Homo sapiens: one gene and its partners. The protein of the gene in region 1 interacts with the protein of each later gene in a pairwise test. Each region holds a gene or a part of one and is shown on either strand. Other genes may lie near its edges.

Evidence for each region. The genes of interacting proteins can lie anywhere in the genome.
Region 2: the proteins of CPEB2 (region 1) and GABBR1 interact in a two-hybrid assay, tested with the Homo sapiens proteins (one study listed by BioGRID).
Region 3: the proteins of CPEB2 (region 1) and PIGS interact in a two-hybrid assay, tested with the Homo sapiens proteins (one study listed by BioGRID).

What each region holds. Positions count from the first base shown.
Region 1 is NC_000004.12:15,061,448-15,068,485, reverse strand, and holds part of CPEB2 (cytoplasmic polyadenylation element-binding protein 2), read right to left. Parts: intron 6,408-7,038; coding exon 6,226-6,407; intron 2,334-6,225; coding exon 2,106-2,333; 3' UTR 1-2,105. UniProt on the Homo sapiens protein: May play a role in translational regulation of stored mRNAs in transcriptionally inactive haploid spermatids. Binds to poly(U) RNA oligomers. Required for cell cycle progression, specifically for the transition from metaphase to anaphase.
Region 2 is NC_000006.12:29,602,159-29,609,196, forward strand, and holds the end of GABBR1 (gamma-aminobutyric acid type B receptor subunit 1 isoform a precursor), read right to left. Parts: intron 6,576-7,038; coding exon 6,443-6,575; intron 6,345-6,442; coding exon of another isoform or gene 6,309-6,344; exon of another isoform or gene 5,061-6,308; coding exon 4,944-5,060; intron 4,847-4,943; coding exon 4,739-4,846; intron 4,327-4,738; coding exon 4,233-4,326; intron 3,539-4,232; coding exon 3,411-3,538; intron 2,831-3,410; coding exon 2,702-2,830; intron 2,480-2,701; coding exon 2,336-2,479; intron 1,559-2,335; coding exon 1,385-1,558; 3' UTR 80-1,384; downstream 1-79.
Region 3 is NC_000017.11:28,561,500-28,568,537, reverse strand, and holds part of PIGS (GPI-anchor transamidase component PIGS), read left to right. Parts: intron 1-4,630; coding exon 4,631-4,720; intron 4,721-5,015; coding exon 5,016-5,107; intron 5,108-6,908; coding exon 6,909-7,038. UniProt on the Homo sapiens protein: Component of the glycosylphosphatidylinositol-anchor (GPI-anchor) transamidase (GPI-T) complex that catalyzes the formation of the linkage between a proprotein and a GPI-anchor and participates in GPI anchored protein biosynthesis.

The DNA of each region.
Region 1 (7,038 bases):
AAAAATCTCTCACAGAGATATAAAAATAGTGCATAACAAATGTCAAAATGGATCAAGGTTTGGCAGGGTTAAGGTTAGAAAAGAATACTCCAAAAAATCTGGAGGATCATGGTTAAGTAACAAATAGGGAACACTGACAAATAAATTAGTAAAAAGCTCTTCTGAAAACAGCATCAACTTTAAACATTAAAAACTTGAACCACAACCACAATAAAACAGCAGAGTTAGACATGAACCACATATTTTTACAGTACAAAAAAGCACACCACAGACAACCAATATTAAGATCAACACTTTGCTCACATGAAGGATTGTCCCAAGGGTTTGCTATAAGGCAACACCCTTGTAATTTTCTCTCTTTAGAGTCAAAAATCTTAGTTCTGCATTTTTAAAAAACATTTACCATTGTTGGGTGCTTTGCTTAGATTGCAGAGTAACTCTTACATTAAAATATAGGGGCTAGTTGCATTAAAAATGCTCTAAAGAGAAAAAATATCACTAATGATATTCTAATAGTGTTCAGTACCAAGAGAAACTCATTAACTACTGCATGTTTCCATGCCACTTTCTCAAAACACCCCAAAAAACCTGCAAGCAAAGTCATTACCAAAATTCCTTCATGAAAATTTTCAAAAAAGCAATTCTCAACTATTAAGAACAATGTTCCATGCAACAGTGACCCCAGTTTAGACAGAAGACCCCAATATTTATAGGTTAAACACATAAGCAAGTTCAAGCCAGATTTCACCATTGTCTTATAAAGGTAAAATTTAATTTTATGCAACTAGCCATCTGTATATTTCCCCTTCTCCATTTTGACTTTACTTAGGGTTTACTAAAGTTTTGCATTCTTCTAAAAAATTCAGATTTTTAAATATGGGTTTCTTATGGGTCTTACATTTGGTGACTGGTTAGCAGTGTGCTGGCCATCTTTGGTTTATAAAGGATGTCTTAACCATGGACTATCAAAGGGGCTAAAACCAACTTTCTTTAGAATTCTTGTATTTTCTTTTACTCATTCTTTTATCTATACTATATCACTGCACATGAATTAGAACCGCACGTCACAAAATTGCACAGGGATTACAAATATTACATCCAGTCTGCATAAAATCGAATTCCACTACTGACCAGATCACAAAATGGCTGCACTCTCTAATCTAAAACTAATTTGCATATTGTACACATGTAAGACGATTTTTTAAACTTGAAGTCACAATAATGCATGCAAGTTTGCTTTTTTAAACAAATTTTATAATTTGTTCATGCTACCTAGATTCAAGAGAGCTTTTTTGAACATTTGCAATACCTCACCTCGTTAGTTAATAATTCTAGTGCATGCATATGGTGTATACAGGTAAGTAAACATGCATTTTTTTCACATTCTAAAACTATGGCAGTTTAGGCCATATTGTGCTGCCTGCATTTTATCTGCAATGCAGTGTGTCTCTAACGTTTTCAGTCCCGTATTAATAGGTGGCATTTACACATAACACCTATATAGCAGCAAAGCTAATACAGCTTGTGATTAAAAATGTTTAAAAATAGCTAATAAATCAGATTATCTTGAGGTATTATTTCTTGCAAGTCAAAATGGAGAGCAAAAAAATCAACCCTAATTTTTAGTTTATGTATACACTGAAAATAGCAACAATAAAAATAAGCATTTGTAGCAGACATATTCCATCTTCACTATTATTTTGCTACCTTTGGTAAATTACTGGGGCAGATCTTGAAGTTAAAAACCCATGTTTAGAAATAAGTGCACGCTTCCCCCACTATATAGCAGCAGACTGTGTTGCCCCTACGCAAAACATTCTCATATCTAATTTTAACTTTACATATAAAAATAACTTGGAGAAAATACAAAAAAACATTTTATTTGAACATGAAAATATCACAAAAATTAGTAAGCCTGAGATGTAGGGTTTTGGTGAAAAACAAGAGGCTTGTAGTGTTTTGGCTGCTGATAAAGATGCATGTATTGATAGCTGGGGTGAAAAGCAGAAGAATGCACTTATTTCTTCTGCATGTCAGTATCTTCAGACACAGTAAGCCACATGCACCCTTTCTTTCCTTGTTAAACAGAGGCCAGTTTGCTATTCTTAGTTCCAGCGGAAGTGGATCTGACGTGGGCGATCAGCACCTTCCTTTACCAATGGCTTATGGAACTCACGTCCAGCACGAGAGTGGATATTTGCCCAACAAAACTCACAGTAATACTGCAGGCAAGTGACATTGGCACAAAAAAAGGGAGCAAATTTTCCACCACAGCGTGCGCCCTGGCATTCATCACACATCTGGTCATCTAGCACATATGGCTTTACCTCCACCTTGAAAAAAAAGAAAGTTAAGTCTCATTAGGGTCTGCTTCAGAAATCAAATTCTGTAATAACTTAAAATGTTCTACAGCAGAAAAAAAGGACCAGCATTAAAAGCTGAGGAAATGGGCAGTTTCTCAAGGAAGGAGCTTTACAATGTAGTAGGTTAAAACACTTTAAAAATCTATAAAAATCTGATTTGCAAAACATTCCACTCTCACCTTTCTTGAATAACATCTTTGAAACACCTGTGTGCTGGTATTTTCAGAGTTAGGGGAGATTATGAGTGAAAAACAAAAGAGATATCAAGTAGTCATGGAAGACAGTTTCCACACCTTTTCCCCTCATTCCAGTATCACCTGTGAGATGGCAGAACCCGAACAGCCACTGATTAAGGCGGCGCCTCTCCACTGCAGGTGCGAGTCACACTCTGCTTGGAAATAACTGGCACAGACAAGCCAGAACTGTGGAGAATCTTACAAAGGGCATGCCTAGACTTCTGTAAATTTATAAGATATAAAGCACAAGTCCCGTTGTGAAGGTCTGACTTGGCAGAACACTTCAGACTGGAGTCAGCTCTGAATGATAAACTTCTCCACCTCAGTTTCCACATCTGTCAAGTGGGAATAACAGATCCTGTCAGAGTTGTGAGGCTTAAATTGTGAATGTAAAAGCATAAGACAGTGCTCGGCACATGGTAAAATATTCTATAAATTAGTATTAGCTACTATTAGCTGCAATAGCCTTGCTTTCCTGCTTGTGATAACTTTATGAATGGAAGGTTTTTACTGTTGTTTGGCTGAAAAGTGCCAGACAGCATAACAGCTCAGCCGTTCCTTAGGAGACAACAGAACACTGAGTGTTCTGAAGGACTGGATTGACATAAAGTAAAGGTTGCCTATAGTAAAAAGTAATGACCCAACAGTTTGTATTCTGAATGTATTCTACTGAAATACTTGCATGAGTGCAGAAAATGAATATAAGGATATTTTCCGCAATATTATTTGTAAGAACAACAACAAACTAGAAACAACCTAAAAGTTGATTACAAGAACTGTAGGATGTTCATTTGATAGACAGGTAATGGAATTACATTGTTGTTTATATTTCATTGATTAGGATTAGGATAAATATATTTTATGTATATTCGACACTTGGCTTTTCTGAATTGCTTGTTTGTATCTTTTGCATATTTTCTTGCTGGAGTTTTGTTTGTTTTTTAAATTGATTTATGAGTTCTCTTTTGTCAGTTAAGAGTTTTTAACCTTTTTTCCAGTGGCTTTACAATCTTTAACACAAATTTTTAAAATTGTTATGCTTAATTTTTATCTCTCAACTTTTTCCTTTATGGGAACATTATTACAAACAAAGAATAAATTAAGGTAGCATGAGAGTTAACTGGATTTCATCTCACTGAATTATAAACTCCATGAACACTGGGACAGCACCCATTTGCTCAACATTCAGTTCCCAGTGCCTAGAAGAATATCTAGCACGAAGTAGAAATGCTATAAATATATGCATAAATGCAATACATTTACATATGTTTTCTGGGTTTCTTTCTCATGGTTATTTCTTTTTTTTTAAAATAAGATTTTAGACAGATTGAAACCAGGGTCTGTGATGTTTACTTCACTTCCATAATACCTGATAAAACACCAGATGTTCAGGAGTTACATTTTAATATAAAACTGTTGAATGAAAATTTCACAAATGCAATGATTTCAATTATTTGTATTTTTAAAATTCTAGATATTAGTTTTATGAAGCTAACCTACTTTACTCAAAACCAGACTTTAAAGATGGAAAATTGAATTTCAAAACCTATTTTTCATTAATAATCTCTAATAATTAAACTCTTCTATATGCAAAAGGAAGTTTCATTAACACTACACTTCACCTAGTCTTATTTTCTAACATTTACTAGAAGTCACAGTGAATTATACTACTTATGAAATAACATACAAAAAAATATAATGAATTACACATCTGTGGTGACTGCTTTCCAGCTATCAGATAGGAACTAAACCACAGTATCCATGAGTCTAAAAAGTTAAGTGGAATAAACAATTTTCATTCCCGCCAAATAAGTATCCCGTGTATCTCTGGGTTGGCAGTTATACACGTATATTTATTCAATTTTTATGGTTTAATAACCATATTCATATTGGAGAGATGAAAGGTATAAAGGTTAATGGTTTAATATTTCTTTGTATAAGCAATATTAGTGACTTGTAAAATATTTAAGGCTCAAATTCTTTCAAATACAGTTCAAAATTACCTTTGTAGCACATATCTTAGAAAATAAGCTTTTCCCTCAGGTATTTCAATGCCTTTTTAAGAAGGCACATGTATCTCAATTCATCTGCTCTGCAACTGAGTTGCTCTTTAAGAGTCAGTACTCTGCTCCAAATAATCGGTCCTTCACTATAATTTCAGAAACAAAGAGGTATGAGGTATGACACTGTAACAGTCTTTTTCTTCTGGTAGTGTATATTAAATACCATGATTACATACTATGTAAATAACGTCGTCTGTGACCTATCACCTCTCTGTTAGCGGTCTAAACCACTGCTGTACATTTGTGTCACTTCCGGAGCTTTATAACCAATTCAGCAGAACCTCAGGGGGTAGGACCCAAATGTCAAGATTTTTCTAAGTTCCCAGGTGAATAATGTACAGCAGAGGTTGAGAAACACAACACTACAGGAACTCTTAATGTTCAGACAAGTTCAGAAAAGTTACGTATGCGTGTCTTGTCAAAAGCAGAGCACCTCCTCTTAGTTTTTTTTTTTTGGCAACCTTTTAAGTAGCAATGCAAACAAACAAAAAAAACCTACTCTGCATTTGTGAACTGAACCTATGCTGCATTTCTTTTCTAAATGAGACGGTTGGGTAATTACATTGAGGACTACTTCTAGCATGCATGGTCTAGTCAATCGGTATTAATTAACCAGCTTCCCTGTCCCCAAAATAGTCTTTTAATGTGCCAAACAGCCCCAGAAGAGGCTTGAAGAAACTGTTATATTGGGGAAAAGGAGTACCCACTCAAATTGTATCTTCTATCTACTAATTCAGATATAAAAAATTCATTTACCCGCATATTCTTAATGTATTTCTGCTATACTATAATTATAAACATGATTATTTTATAATATATTTAGCTATGTATAGGAACTGTTCACAGATTTTGGCATAAAATAGATTTGTAAATGAATGCTAGTGTCTTTCCCTATTTTAGAAGGTAGTCAGTACTTGGAATTATTCAGTAGGGGTTTCAGTTATCATTCCTAGTACTTCTTACAAGTTCTTATTGTGATGATTCAAGCAATGCTACTAAAAAAATTTTAAGTTTAGGTCAATTATTTTAGAGAAATACACACAATGCATTTTTATTTTAGATTTTGTGACAAATGAAAACAAACATTTAAATAACACTCTCCGTCAAGTTCTATTCTAAGTGCTTATATATATGTAAATTCATTTAATCCTCAAAATTACTGAGAAAGACATGTTATCATTGTTTTCTATTTTACAAGTGAGGAAAAAGAGGCATACAGAAGGTTAATTTGTAGAAATGGGGTTCAATCCCAGGCAGTCTGACTCCAATGTACAGGCTCTTAAAACAACCTCTGCCTCCACGGTTAGAATATTTGACCTTACTGGCTGATTAAAAAATTTTGACATGGCTGCACAATGATATTAATATTTTTACATTATATCTAAAGTTTAAAGTGTGTTCAGTAATTTTCCATTTCAAGGATATTTTTATATAATATCCTTTAAGACTTACAGAAGTATAAAAATTAAAGTGTTCAAATTATATTATTAACTCGTTAGGGTATGAGGCTTTGGATCAGCACCTTATTATAGGACATAAGTGATTTCCCAATATGCAACTTACACGTTTATCAATATCACCATGCTGAAGCTGAACAAACCGAGCACTAATGGCAGCAATATAGCTCTGCTGATTGGAGAAAGCAACTCGCCCAGCACCTTTTGGGTATTTTAGCTCAGGATCTGTATCAATTCCTGCATAACAAACTCCACCATACAGCCGGTCCATGATCATAGCAAGTTCCACTTGAAAAGGAAAAGAAGTTTACATCAAATGTGAGAGAACACAGTAATCAACAATTTTTAAGTACTTTTTGTAAAACGTAAAAGTCAATAGTATATTATCATTTGACCAGGAGTAGAATGGCAGATAAGAGGCTGTTGTTAAAAAAGGACGGGGATCGAGGATGCTTTTTTTAAACTATAAAGTGACTCACCACCATCACATCTACCTACTTACAGCACTAAACCCACTATATACTCTATCTTCTGTCCTATAGAGAAATAGTTCCATGCTCTTTCCTAAATCCAATCCTTTCACTTGCATACTAGATCCCATACACTCTCACTTAGGACACTGCTTCAGCAATTCTCCCCTTTCCCTTCTATACAATCAATTTTCCCAAGTACACTATAATTTTCCTATCTTAAAAAAAATTCCCATAACACTTTTTCTCCCTCTCAGCTACTGCTCCATTTCTCTGTTCCCCTTTACAACCAAATTTCTCAAAATCTGTTCCAGTATTCCCCCCAATTCCTCTCCTCCCTTTCTCTTTATTCAACTCTTTTTCTAACCAGACTATCACACCATGACTCCACTATAATTGTTCAAGCCAAGTCCAATGGTCAATCTATCTGTAAGTAGCATTGAACACAA
Region 2 (7,038 bases), on another chromosome or scaffold:
TGAACTTGGAGTCCTCTGAACCTCCCTTCTTGGATTGAAGCCCATTCTGTTCACAGGAAGACTGCAAGGTGCCGAGTCACACTGTTCACTGGTTTATTGAGATTCGGGGAGATCCTTCCCCAAGAGACACCACAGTGTGAAAGGGACACCACCTCCCACCCCATAGGTCCATCTGTCTATCCCAACAGTCAAGGGTGCCTTCCTTTGGTCAGGATTCTCATCAACTATCCACTGGAAGCAGCTCTCCAAACCTGCCCCCACTTATTTTTCCTTAATTCCCCTCAAAAAAACACAAAACAAAAGGGAGCAGTCTTGGGAGAAGATGATTGTGAGTGTAGACTGAGGGTAGTACATGAATGCAATGGAGATGGGGGGAATCTGAGCAGAAATGGAGATTCTGTGACAAGGAGAGGGTGTGGATGGCCCCACCAAACATGAATTGGGGAAAAGTGCATAACAATGTGCAGGGTAGGGTACATATGGCTCTGTCAGAAGAATACCATGATTTAAGGGAAGAAAGTACACAAGGTACATGGAGGGTACACAGGGAAAGTACATGGATAAACATGGACGTGTGCAAATAGGAAAGACATGACTCAGCATGCTAGACAAATTGCACATGCCTACCCAAACACGCTCAAGGGCAGACCCATGACCATGAGAGGGGCACACGTAGCTGTGAATGCAGGGCACCCGAGAGCACATGTGACTGAACATGAAGAAAGCATACGGGAAAAGCGTGTGTACACATGAGCATGTTCAGTGGGCACACGCAGGAGAGGGGAGGATGCATGTGTGCTGAGCGTGAGTGCACAGAGCAGAGGCAAGGAGCATGTGAGCCTTGGCGAAAAGAATGAGCTCCCAAAGGAAGCAAAATTCAGGGGGAGCCACATGTGAGAAAGTATAGAAGGGCAAGTAAGATGGAAAGAGATTATGACAGTGGAGAAAAGGAGAGGCCCCTTTGGGGTGGAAAGAGCACTTGTTGGGAGACCCCTGCTGGACAGGAACAGAGCACAAAGGCAGAGGAGCTGCAGGGGTTGCCGTGGTAACTAGAAGAGGGTGTTGCATGGGAAGAGAAAGATGCAGTGAGGCTGCTGAGGAGGCAGCGTGTGAGCAGTGAGCAGCTTCAAGCCAGGTACGAACTAAATTGTGAAGAGGTGATACAAAATTACATGAAGCAGTAAGAGAGAAAAAGGTCTGTTTCCCAGAGGTATGAGAGACCCAAATCAGCCCAGAACTCACAGGGGGACATGTATTTACAAGAGATGAGATTGGATAGCATGTTCTTCCCAGCTGGGGATGGGGACCCCCTGCTTCCTGAGTCCCCTGCCCTTCCCCTCTCCCTTTCCCTCCCCCTACTGGCCTGTCCTCCCTCACCCTACCCTCACTTATAAAGCAAATGCACTCGACTCCCATCACAGCTAAGCCGGTCGGGGGGCTCAGGGGGTCCCCTGGGCAGGCCCCCAGAGGGTTCTGGGGGTGTCGGTGGGTGGCGCCGGGAGCGGAGCTGCTGCCGAGACTGGAGTTGATGGCGCAGTTCAGAGACACGCTCCTCTTTCTGGAGGAAGAAGCACAATTGGGATAGTAGGAGAAGAGGAGGTGATGAAGGAGTGGGGAGGAGGGAAAGAGAGGAAGGGCACAGGGAAAGAGAGGAAGGGCACAGAAAAATGTAGGGGGAGGACGTAGGGTAAGTGGACAGAATAAATTAAAAGGAGAAATCAAAACAGAACAAGAAAAGCCAGAGAACATAAGGATACCGATAGAAAAAATGCGATCAGGGAAATAAGAGAGAATTTAAAAACAAAAGGAAAAAGTGGGGAAGGAGAGAAAAGTCAGTGCACAGAGCTTCCAATAAATCAGAGAGATGTGTCAACCCAGTTGGAACATCCCTCTCTTTGGCATTGCACCAGCCCCTAATGACAGCCTGGGGCACAGTGAACGCCTGCCCAGGTCCTTTATGCTGGGGCTGCATGCTACACCCAGCTGCTGTGAGTGTTGACTACTAGAGGCTCACAGCTGCCTCTCTCCAGTTGTCACCTACAGCCAACAGCCATCCTCTTGCCTTAAGGAGGCTGAGTCAACCACATAGCTCCCACTCCAGAGCCCTTCCACCTGCCAGGCCAACACTGGATTTTGCCTGAGATAGAATCTTGCTCAGCCCTTTCCCCTCCCCTATGCTGCTCCATTCACTCCTTACAGGTTGTCTCCTAGGACCCTCCCTCCATGAGCCAAGAACATCTGACCCTGTATCTCAGGCTTGGCTTCAGACAACCCAAGCTAAGACGCAAGCCTCCTGGACCACTCCAACACCCTACCCTGACACCCACCCCCGCACCTCAGCAATGATCTTTTCCAGTTCACGGTTCTCCTTCTCCAACAGCCGGGACTTCTCCTCCTCGTTGTTGTTGGTCGATGACCCTGTCTTCATGGTGTCCTGCGCCTCCGACTGCCATTCCCCTCGGGTGATCAGCCTGCGCATCTGGGGGCAAATGTTTGGGCGTGGGGTGGCCCAGCAAGGACTGTACTAGTGACTGGCTGATGGAAGGTTGGAGGTGGAAGGAATGCTGATAAGAGTTGGGCCCAAAACAAGGGGAGGAGTGAGAGGAGGGTGAACGGAAGGGCAGAGGAACTCAGTAATATAGGAAGGAGGGATGGAGGGAACATGGGAACAAAGAGGGTGGGAGAAAAGCCAGATCCTTACCTTGGGCACAAAGAGCACAACAAGAGTGATATAGGAGGAGAAAACTATGGCAAGAGAGGCAAAGGCAAAGGCTGCATCCTGCTGGCTGGACAGAATCATGGTGACAGGAGCAGTGATGAGGCACAGGACCTAGAGGGAAAGACACATTGAGGGAGTCTCAGGTCTGCAGGCTCAGACAAGATCCAGAGTTTACTTCCCATGGGAGGGAGTCTATGCAGACAGTTTCCTGGTGAACTTTCCCTTTGAAAAGGATCCAAATTCAGGATCATCCTCAAATATAGATTGAGAAAAATCTCAAACTGTCCCAAACCAGTTTTCACTCTTGGTTAACCCCTCCCCTCAAGGCAGGAACTCCCAGGATCTCTATGCACAGATTCCGGGTCCTCCAGAGTCGGTCCCTGGCAGGAAATGTCAATAGAGTCCAGCCCATTAACCACAGACAAGCAATTTAACGTCTCTGTGTTTCTGTTTCCTCACCTATAAAGTGGGGATACTAATATCTACTTCACTGGGTAGTTGCAAGATTAATGATACAATGTCTGTAGTGAGCTTTGTAAACTGTAAAGTGCTTTATAGACCTGAAGAATTAACAAACTTTTTAAGACTTCTAAGCAACCGATCCCAGATCTAGCATTGATTCTTCCTAGTCCTCTATATCTGGGCTGCTGTGGTCAGCCTACAGGGTCAATGCCATGGGGTCAGTGCTCACTGCCACATTGTAGATAGCCATGCCCACAGCCCGGTGATCATTGATCTTCTCAGTGGACACACTCTTGGTCTCATAAGCAAGGAAGATTCCCAGCAGCAGCAGCAGCCCCTTGTAACCATAGAAAATGCCTAGGATGGCAGGAGAGAGTCACTTGAGCAACAAGGACCACAATGCTCCTCACTCAATCCCCATCCCCTCTCTGCCCTTCACCTACTCTGAAATGGAAAGGGGGCCCTCCTCTCCAATCCAACCCCTCTGACCTAGCAAACCTCACCCTGTGTCCCCTATCCCTTATGTCCACCCAACTTGCCCAGACCACATCACTTTTTCCTGGGATTCACACAGGAAAGCAATGGTGGCAAGCTGCTGTCAGTCAGGCAAGGGCTTGTTGAATATCTAGAAATAGGCCAGTCTGGGCCACACATGCCTCACCCTTACCCTACAGGTGGGAAGGTGGCTTTCCAGGCAGAGGGTAGGTTTGCAATTTGTGACCATGAATCGAACAATGCTAATAAGGCCAAGGGGGATCTAAAAGATAATGTCAAGTCTGGAGGTGGGGTTACCCCCACTTGTTCCTCTGCTGAACACAAGTTCTTCATCTGTGCTTTCTGTGCTTTGGGCCCTAAGCTCCTCATAGCAAAAGAGCAACTCTCCCCTATTCTCAGAAAAGATTAGTGCAATAACAAAGAGTAGGGTGTTCAAACTGGGTTGACAAGCTCTCTACCTCCTCTTCCAAAGACCCCTCTCCCTCCAAGCCCTCTACCCCTGCCTTCCCTCCTGCCTTTGTGCATCCCTGCCCTCCTTTGCCCACATCCCACACACCAAGCCATGTATTCATCTTCCTGGAGCTGCAATGCTCCAGCTGGGGCAGAATAGAGACGTCAATATCTTCCTTAGGTTCCTCCTTGGCAAATGTCTAGGGCAGAAACAAGGTCACAAGAAAGATGGTTGCCAGCCTCCCCTCCTCTCCTCAACGCTTCTCAGTCTCTGGCTTCCAACTGTTTTCCTATGAGACCCTCAATGCTGATGCCAAATCTCATTCTAGGCCTAAGAATGTTTTCCTGAACCCTTGGAGGTGCTTGTTCCCCACTTTCCCTGATGCCTGGAAGTTCTACACACCCTTCCCAGATTCCCACCCCTTCCTTTCTTCAGCTGAATCTGGAGGCCTATGAGGGGCTCCTTCTAGGAAGGAAAGGAAGAGCTTCCAATACGAGGAAGGCACTCTCTCCAAGTAGCTTCATCCCTCAAGACACACACAGCCCCAGGGCCCTGATGGCCACTGAGCCCTGCTCATTCTCCTGACCATAGCACCTCCTCTCCAGTGGTACCTCAATGGTCCGGTGCAGAGGGTCCACGATCTGCCAGATGGCGAGAGTGAGGACATCCATGCCCACCAGCAGGCCCACTGTGGCATACAGCTTCCAGGGTTCCAGAGTCTGGATAAATATGTGGGGAGAACAGGCACGTCAGGGGAAAATGCTCTGTGCCCCAGGAGCCAAGGATCTGGGGGCTGAGGATTGGGCAGCAGCTCACCTTCCTCCACTCCTTCTTTTCTTCCTTCTTTGTGAAGACCGTGTGGACCCACCAAATCTTGGTGAACATGGAACCGTAGCCCAGACTAAAGCCCAGGCCCAGGAGCCAGAGGCGGGCCTAGAAAGGAAGAGAGGGCACAGGCAGAACAGGGTAGAGTAGTAGCCGGGACTGCAGTAAGGATGGGCAGAACCCTAAGGGAGAGTGGGCAGGGAGCACGGGCAGGGAGCTCATGGTGGCACAGGGAGGATGCGAAAATGTGAGCAGGACGGGGAGCGGCAGGAGGAGAGCAGTCTCCCCACCTTGAACAATTCCTCCCATCCACCCTCTACTTCCACACCACCAGGGTGATCTTGCTAAAACCTCCTGGCTTTAGTGGCCAAAAACCTCCAACCACTCCCCAATATCTATAAGTTATAGCCTGAACACTTCTGGATATGACACAGACCCTTCACAACATGCTCCCATCCACCTGTCCAGCTAGGCTCATCTCCCAGCCCCACACCTACCCCACGCTCCAGCCATGCTGAACTACTCACTTTCTCTTCATCTACTCTCTTTCATGTATTTTCTAGCCACACGATGCTCCCTATGCCCCTGAAGTAGCCTTCCTCTATTTCTCTAGCTGATAAAATCCTATTTGTCCTTCAGTATTCAAATGCCACCTCTTCAGTGAGGTCCACCCAATCACGCCAGCAGTGAACTGTGTTCCCTTCTTTGCCCCCAAAGCACTTTGTGCAGATCCCTACTCTGGAACCTCTCCTATTGCACTACAGCTAATTGTCTGCTTCTCCAGCTGCACTCTGGCCTCACTGGGAACAGAGGATTCCTGATGAACTGCATGTGCATGTGCATGGAAATGCCATGTGCACAGATGTATGATCAGGACAGCACAGAGCAGAGGAAAAAGAGAGAGCAAGGACAGGCAGGCAGATCAGGAGAAAGAGTGGGTGTTTCCACCAGTGGAAAAGAGAACCACTCAACTATCACTGTTGAAGCTGGCCTCTCCCCACAGCACTAGAACCTTCCATGTACCAACAGTCCCAGAGCCCCTCCTCCCTGTGTGGCAGTGGTCCCTTCCCCCCAACTCTCTGCTGTGTTTCCATCTCTGCTTCTATCCTTCCAAACCCAACAAAGGCTCCCAAAAAAAGTCCACAGTTCTGATTCTCAGCCCCCATACCACAGACAAGCCACCATTGTTCAGGAGACCTTTGAGCAGATCCCCTTCCTTTGCCTTCAATGGCTCCCTCCTCTTCTCTGCAAGGCCTGCCATGGCAACCTTGGAACTGACAAGTAAACTACAGAATGAAAATGGCCTGCAGACACAGAAAGAAGGGACAGAGCCAAACAGAGAACAGAGGGGTGATGCTAGAAGGAAAGAACAGGGACAAGAGTCAGGGAAAGCTGAGGAGGAAGGGCAGAGAATCATAAATCATGGAAGGTGCTCCTGAGACGGGTGGGAGAGTCACATCCTGTAAGGAATTTGCCCACCACCTCCTCACCTGGCAGACGAAAGGAAACTGGTTCCTCCCAATGTGGTAACCATCGAGCCCCAGGGGGAAGACAGCAGCTAAAGCCAGTGAGCAGCCCACAGCAGTCAGGTTGTTCAGGTTGGGCTGTGAGTTCTGGATATAACTAGGGCAGAGGTGGAGAGGGTGAGAGGGAGAGAGAATTACCCCTCTTCTCCAGGGAGGCTGAGCTCTCCAAATACCACGCAATGGCATGACCCTAATTTCAGGGCCAGGGGCTAAAGGAAGACAGGATTGGAGAAGACAGTGGAGCCTTGAGAGGCAGAGCAATGCAGTCATGGGGCTGAAGATGGAGTTGCAGAGGGCTTCCCAAGCACAGGCCCCCACTAGAATACAGGCTATTTATGTAGAGTCCAAGACTGTGAGACCTGGCCCCAAAGGTTGTTTTTTTCTCTTCTTTTCTTTTTTCCTCCCGTTAGCTACTTTGGAGTAGGAGTGGGGGTTATATCTGGTTTCCCTGTTTTCATTCTCAACAAGTCAGAATGAAAAACTCCATGATACATGGCCATGGGAGTTACACAGGTTTTATTCTCATCCTGTCCAGGAACATGATCAGTATCTCAGAGAGG
Region 3 (7,038 bases), on another chromosome or scaffold:
GTTAGACGGAAATAGTAATAGCGTTGTTCATTTATTCAACAAGTATTTACTTTGTAGCTATGTCAGATACAGTTCTAGTTACTAGAGATATAGCAGTGAACAAAACAGACAAGAAGAAGACAATAAAAAAGACAAAGCTGGATGTGGTAGCTCACACCTGTAATCCCAGCACTTTGGGAGGCCGAGGCAGGCAGATCACTTGAGATCAGGAGTTTGAGACCAGCCCGGCTAACATGGTGAAACCCCATCTCTACTAAAAATACAAAAATTAGCCGGGCGTGGTGGCGGGCGCCTGTAATCCCAGCTACTTGGGAGGCTGAGGCAGGAGAATCGCTTGAACCTGTGAGGTGGAAGTTGCAGTGAGCCAAGATCCCACCACTGCACTCCAGCCTGGGTGACAAAGACTCCATCTCAAAAAAAAAAAGAAAAAAAGACAAGTAAGTCAAATGTATGTTAGATGGTGACAGAAGAAAAATAGAGCAGGACAGGAGGAGAGGGAATTTTCTTGAGGAATGGGAGGGGATTGCAGTTTTAGATAGGGTGGACAAGGGAGGTCTCATTGAAAAGAGGACATTCGAGTAAATACCTAAAAGGCGAGGGAATAGACTGTGCAGATATCTGGGGGAAGAGCATCTTGGCAGAGGGAAAAGCATGTCTAAGGTCCCGAGTTAAGAGCAAGTGTTGTACCTTTCAGGAGCAGTGAGAATCTCCTTGTGGCTTCACTGGAGTGAATGAGGAAGAGAGAAAGAGGAAATGAAATAAAACCAGAACAGTAGAAGGGGGCTGAATCACTTAGGGCCTGGTAGATCACTGTGAGAATTTGCATTCTAGGCTTTTATTCTAGATAAGAAGGGAAGCCATTGAAGGTTTTTTGTTTCTTTTTTTAAACATGACTACCATTGTCACACCTAACTAAGTTAGCAGTGATTCCTTAATATCACCTAATTCTCAGTCTGTATTTAGATCTCTCCAGTTATCTCCAAGGTATCCTTTCACAGATGGTTTATTCCATCAGGATCAATAAGTTGCATTTGTCTTTTTGTCACTTTTATTTTATGTCAGCTCCCCCCACCCTACCCCCATACATTTCTTTCACACCATTGATTTGTTGGAGAAACCAGGTCATTTGTTTTATAGAACATCTCACATTTGGGATTTGGCGAGTAGCTTCCTCACAGTTTAATTTAACTCATTCCTCTAGCATCCATATTCCTTATAAACTGGGAGTTAGATCTAGTGGTTTGATTAAAGCCAGGTTCAATTTTTTGGATGAGAATACATTGTAGGTGGTGCAGTGTACTTCCTATTGTGTTGTATCCTGAAGCACTTAATGGCTAGTTGTTCCATTTTGGGTGATGCAAAGATTATGTAGTGAGTTCAGGTATTGTCAGCCTGATCTCTATATTTTAGAGTTTCTCATCAACCTTTTACATATTTTTAGCATCTATTTGATCATGGAATCCATTTCATTAGCAGTCACAAGATAATGCTTTTTTTAATTTTTATTTTTTTTAGAGACAGGGTCTCACTCTGTCACCCAGACTGCTGTGCAGTGGCTCAATCATAGCTTACTGCAGCCTTGAAATCCTAGGCTCAATCAGACCTCCCACCTCAGCCTCCCAAGTAGGTAGGACTACTGGTGTGTGGCCAGGCACAGTGGCTCACGCCTGTAATCCCAGAACTTTGGGAGGCCAAGGCGGTGGATCATTTGAGGTCAGGAGTTTCAGACCAGCCTGGGCAATGTAGTGAAACCCCTTCTCCACTAAACATACACAAATTCGCTGGGTGTGGTGGTGTGTGCCTGTAGTCCCAGCTACTCTGGAGTCCAAGACAGGAGAATTGCTTGAACCTAGGAGGCAGAGGTTTCATTGAGCCAAGATTGTGCCACTGCATTCCAGCCTGGGAGACAGAACGAGACTCTGTCTCAAAAAAAAAAAAAAAAAAGTAGGCTGGGCGCGGTGGCTCACGCCTGTAATCCCAGCACTTTGGGAGGCTGAGGCGGGTAAATCACTTAAGGTCAGGAGTTCAAGACCAGCCTGCTCAACATGGGAAAACCCTGTCTCTACTAAAAATACAAAAATTAGCTGGGTGTGGTGGCACATGCCTGTAATCCCAGCTACTTGGAAGGCTGAGGTAGGAGAATTGCTTGAAATGGGGAGGCGGATGTTGCAGTGAGCCGGGATCCCACTGTTATTCTCCAGTCTGGGCAACAGAGCCAGATTCCATCTCAAAAAAAAACCCAAAAAAACAAAAAAAAAAAAAAAAAGAAAAGAAAAAGTAGACAAGGGGTCCTTTTTTTTTTTTTTTTTTTGAGATAGGGTCTGACACTCAGGCTGAAGTGCAGTGGCCCAATCATAGCTCACTGTAACCTTGAACTCCTGGGTTCAAGTGGTCCTCTTACCTCAAGCTCTCAAGCTCCCAAGTAGCTGAGACTACAAGAATGTGCCACTGTGCCCAGCTAATTTTTTATTTATTTTATTTAATTTGTTTATTTATTTATTTATTTTGAGACAGAGTCTCACTCTGTCACCCAGGCTGGAGTGCAGTGGCGCAATCTCAGCTCACTGCATCGTCCGCCTCCCGGGTTCAAGTGATTCTCCTGCCTCAGCCTCCTGAGTAGCTAGGACTACAAGTGCACAGACACCATGCCTGGCTAATTTTTGTAATTTTAGTAGAAACGGGGTTTCACCATGGTGGCCAGGCTGGTCTTGAACTCCTGGCCTCGAGCAGTCCGCCTGTCTTGGCCTCCTAAAGTGCTGGGATTACAAGCGTGAGCCAGTGCACCTGGCCCCAGCTAGTTTTTAAATTTTTTGTAGAGACGGGGTCTCACTGTGTTCCCCGAGCTGGTCTCAAACTCCTAGGCTTAAGCAATCTTCCCACCTCGGACCCTAAAGTGCTGGAATTACAGGCATCAGCCACCACACCTGGCCAAATTAGTGACTTTTACAATTCTGTCATTTCTTCTTTCTGGAAGAAATGTATGACCTGGAATTCTTTTATAAAGAAAAGAGGAACTTTTTCAATAAATTTTAGGTTTAGCTTGTCAAGTTTCAGGAGGCAAAAAAAATCCCTTCAGGATTGCCTTACATGTATATATTAATTTGGGGAGAGTTGACATCTTTATAATAGTCTTTATAATATGACATCTTTATAATATTCATCTAGGGGCCTTGTATGCTATTCCATTTTGTTCAGATATTTTATGTCCTTCAGTAAAGTCTTGAAGTTTTCTTCTTATAGTTTTATACATTTATTCCTGGGTATTTTTATACTTTATTGTTAATGTGATTGAGGTTTTAAAAGATGTTTCTAATTGGATATTGCTGGTATTTATGCGGGTATTGATTCTTGCATATCCTTGTATCTAGTCATCTTATTGAACTGTTGCTAGTTCTAATAGTTTTTCAGTTGGTTCTCTGATTTTCTTGAGAAATAATTATGCTACTTCAAAGTGGCCATTTTATCTGTTTCTTTCCAATACTTTTAAGTTTTCTTTCTCTTTCTTCACATATTACATTGGTCAAGAACTTTAGAAAGAACAATACTGAATAACAATGAGAATAGAGGAGATAGCAGGCATCCTTGTTTTATTACTAACTTTACAGAATTATGTTTAATATTTTGTCATTAAGTGTGTGGTTTTTATTTTTTATTTTTTTGAGACAAGGTCTGGTTCTATTACCCTGGCTGGAGTGCAGTGGTGCCATCTCAGGTCACTGCAACCTCTGCCTCTCAGGCTCAAGTCATCCTCCCACCTCAACCTCCCAAGTAGTTGGGACTACAGGTGTGCACCACCATAACTGCCTTTTTTTTTTTTTTTTTGAGATGGAGTTTCGCTCTTGTTGCCCAGGCTGGAGTGCAATGGTGTGATCTCGGCTCACTGCAGCCTCCGCCTTCTGGGTTCAAGTGATTCTCTTGCCTGAGCTTCCCGAGTAGCTGGGATTACAGGCGCCTGCCACCACACCCAGCTAATTTTTTGTATTTTTGGTAGAGATGGGGTTTCATCACGTTGGCCAGGCTGGTCTCAAACTCCTGACCTCAGGTGATCCACCCGCCTTGGCCTCCCAAAGTGCTGGGATTACAGGTGTGAGCCACCATGTCTGGCACATACCTGGCTAATTTTTGTATTTTTTGTAGAGTTGGGGTTTCATCATGTTGTCCAGGCTAATCTCCAACTCATGAGATCAAGGGATCCGCCTGCCTTGGCCTCCCAAATTGCTGGGATTACAAGCATGAGCCACCGTGCCCAGCCTGTGTATTTTGTTTTTTATCAGGAACATTCACTGAATTTAATTATTTTGGGGCAGTGATTGGAATGACCATACAGTTTTTCTCCTTTTGCCTATTAATGTAATGACTATTGAAATAGATTTCCCAGTGGGAAGACGTTTCACGCTGAAGGACCAGTGTGTGCAGAGGTGAAGGCAAGAGCTGCGGCAGATGGGCGAAATGGGTGTCATGTGTTTGATATCATCTATGCAGAAATCATTAGAGTTGGCTGCAGCTGCTTGGTCTTTTTCTGTAAACAGCCATCTTGCTGTCCTCAGATGCTGGACAGTGTTAGGTCTGGGAAGGTGGGCAGAGGCATGATGCTTGCCCTTTTCATTGTGCTACTTCTTATCCCTCCCAGACAAAATGAAAATCAAATGCCGTTTCCAGAAGGCCTATCGGAGGGCTTTGGACCATGAGGAGGAGGCCCTGTCATCGGGCAGTGTGCAAGGTATGGGAAGGGATGAGCACACCATTTTAATGTGAAGCCCTCTTTTTCCTTCTGATCTCTAAGTGCATAGTTCCCATGCTTTGGCTTACTTCCAAAACCTCTCTTGGAATGCTGGGAATGAGGAACTGTGGGATTCAGCCCAGTCCACTGAGGGCCAGAGAGGTTGATTGGCTTACCCAAGCCTGACCACTGTGTCAGCTGAATGTGAGTGAAGGGGTGGGTTAGGCATTCTTTGGGGCTGGGGGGAGATGGAATGGTGTTTTGCTCTTGGTGTACCACCTGTTCTTGCCCCCAGAGGCAGAAGCCATGTTAGATGAGCCTCAGGAACAAGCGGAGGGCTCCCTGACTGTGTACGTGATATCTGAACACTCCTCACTTCTTCCCCAGGTAAGGTAACAGAGAGGCTGCGACTTTGCCTTATCCCTTCAGCTCGTGGACTCCTGGGTCACCTCCTTCTTGCATCATTGCTACCCATTTCTTCCATTTGCTACAGAAAACTCTCCAAAAAAAAATTTTTTTTTTTTTGAGACGGAGTCTTGCTCTGTTGCCTAGGCTGGAGTACAGTGGCGGGATCTCGGCTCACTGCAGCCTCCGCCTCCCGGGTTCAAGTGATTCTCCTGCCTCAACCTCCTGAATACCTGGGATTACAGGCATGTGCCATGTAATGTATTTTTAGTAGAAATGGGGTTTCACCACGTTGGTCAGGCTGGTCTCGAACTCCTGACCTTGTGATCTACCTGCCTTGGCCCCCCAGAGTGCTGAGATTACAGGCGTGAGCCACCGCACCCGTCCTCCACATATTTTTAATAAAGAATGCTGGCTGGGTCTGGTGGCTCACACTGTAATCCCAGCACTTTGGGAGGCCGAGGCGGGCAGTTTGCTTGAACTCAGGGGTTCAAGACCAGCCTGGGCAACATGGCAAAACCCCATCTCTACAAAAAATAAAAAAAATTAGCTGGATGTGGTAGTCCCTGTTACTTTTGGAGGCTGAGGCAGGGGGAGCGCTTGAGCCTGGGAGGTGGAGGTTGCAGTGAGCTAATATCATGCCATTGCACTCCCCATCTCTACTAACAATACAAGAATCGGCCGGGTGCGGTGGCACATGCCTGTAATCCCAGCACTTTGGGAGGCCGAGGCAGGCGGATCACTTGAGGTCAGGAGTTTGAGACCAGCCTGGTCAACATGGTGAAACCCCATTTCTACTAAAAATACAAAAATTAGCCGGGCGTGGTGGTGGGTGCCTGTAGTCCCAGCTACTCGAGAGGCTGAGGCAGGAGAATCACTTGAACCCAGGAGGTGGAGGTTGCAATGAGCCAAGATAGTGCCACTGCACTCCAGCCTGGGCGACAGAGTGAGACTCTGTCTCAAAAAGAAAATTTATAATCAAATATTTAATTTTTATAAAAGCACTAAAGAAAATGTTAATGAACGTCCCCATCCCCACCCCCAGCTCACAAACTGCAGTGCAGTAGCACGGTGTGTACTTCCATGGTTATACTCCATTCCCTTTTGGCCCAAGGCAACCAGATTTTGTGTTTGTAATTTTCTTGCTTTTCCTTAGAGTTTGATCACATATGCTGTATCTCTGTAAACAATGTATTTAATTTTACATTTTTGAATTTATATAAATGGTGGCTTATAACACATGTTCCTCTGCCACTTTTATTTTATTCCCTTCATGTGGCAGAGCCTGGTGAGAGAATCATCCATAATTATGTAGTTGAATCTATGTATCATTGTATAAACATAAACATAATTTACCCATTCTATTGCTAATGGACATTTGGATTATTTCTAGGTTTTACTGTTAGAAATAATGCTATTATGAATACTTGTTTCTTTGCCATGTGCCATTTTTATATCAGACTCTCCAGTTGTCTGTTTATTCCGCTTTTCTTGCTCAGCATGCCATCTCTGAGTTTCCATTTCACCATTTTACCAGCCCCTGAAGAGTTAGATGCTGCCTGGACCCATGTCAACTGGGAAAAAGAAGAGAACGGAGACAAATGAAAATACTCAATATATACTCATAGCTCAGAAATGCTGAGTTAATAGCTCATGAATCTCAAGAGAGGTGCAAACCTGTTGGTCATTGGCAAAGGGGCAGATTCGGAACAGTAGGAGCCAGGGTGCTTTTTGGCTTTCTTTTCTGAGCCATGGGCATTCTGTCTCTTGCTCACCCCCACAGGACATGATGAGCTACATTGGGCCCAAGAGGACAGCAGTGGTGCGGGGGATAATGCACCGGGAGGCCTTTAACATCATTGGCCGCCGCATAGTCCAGGTGGCCCAGGCCATGTCTTTGACTGAGGATGTGC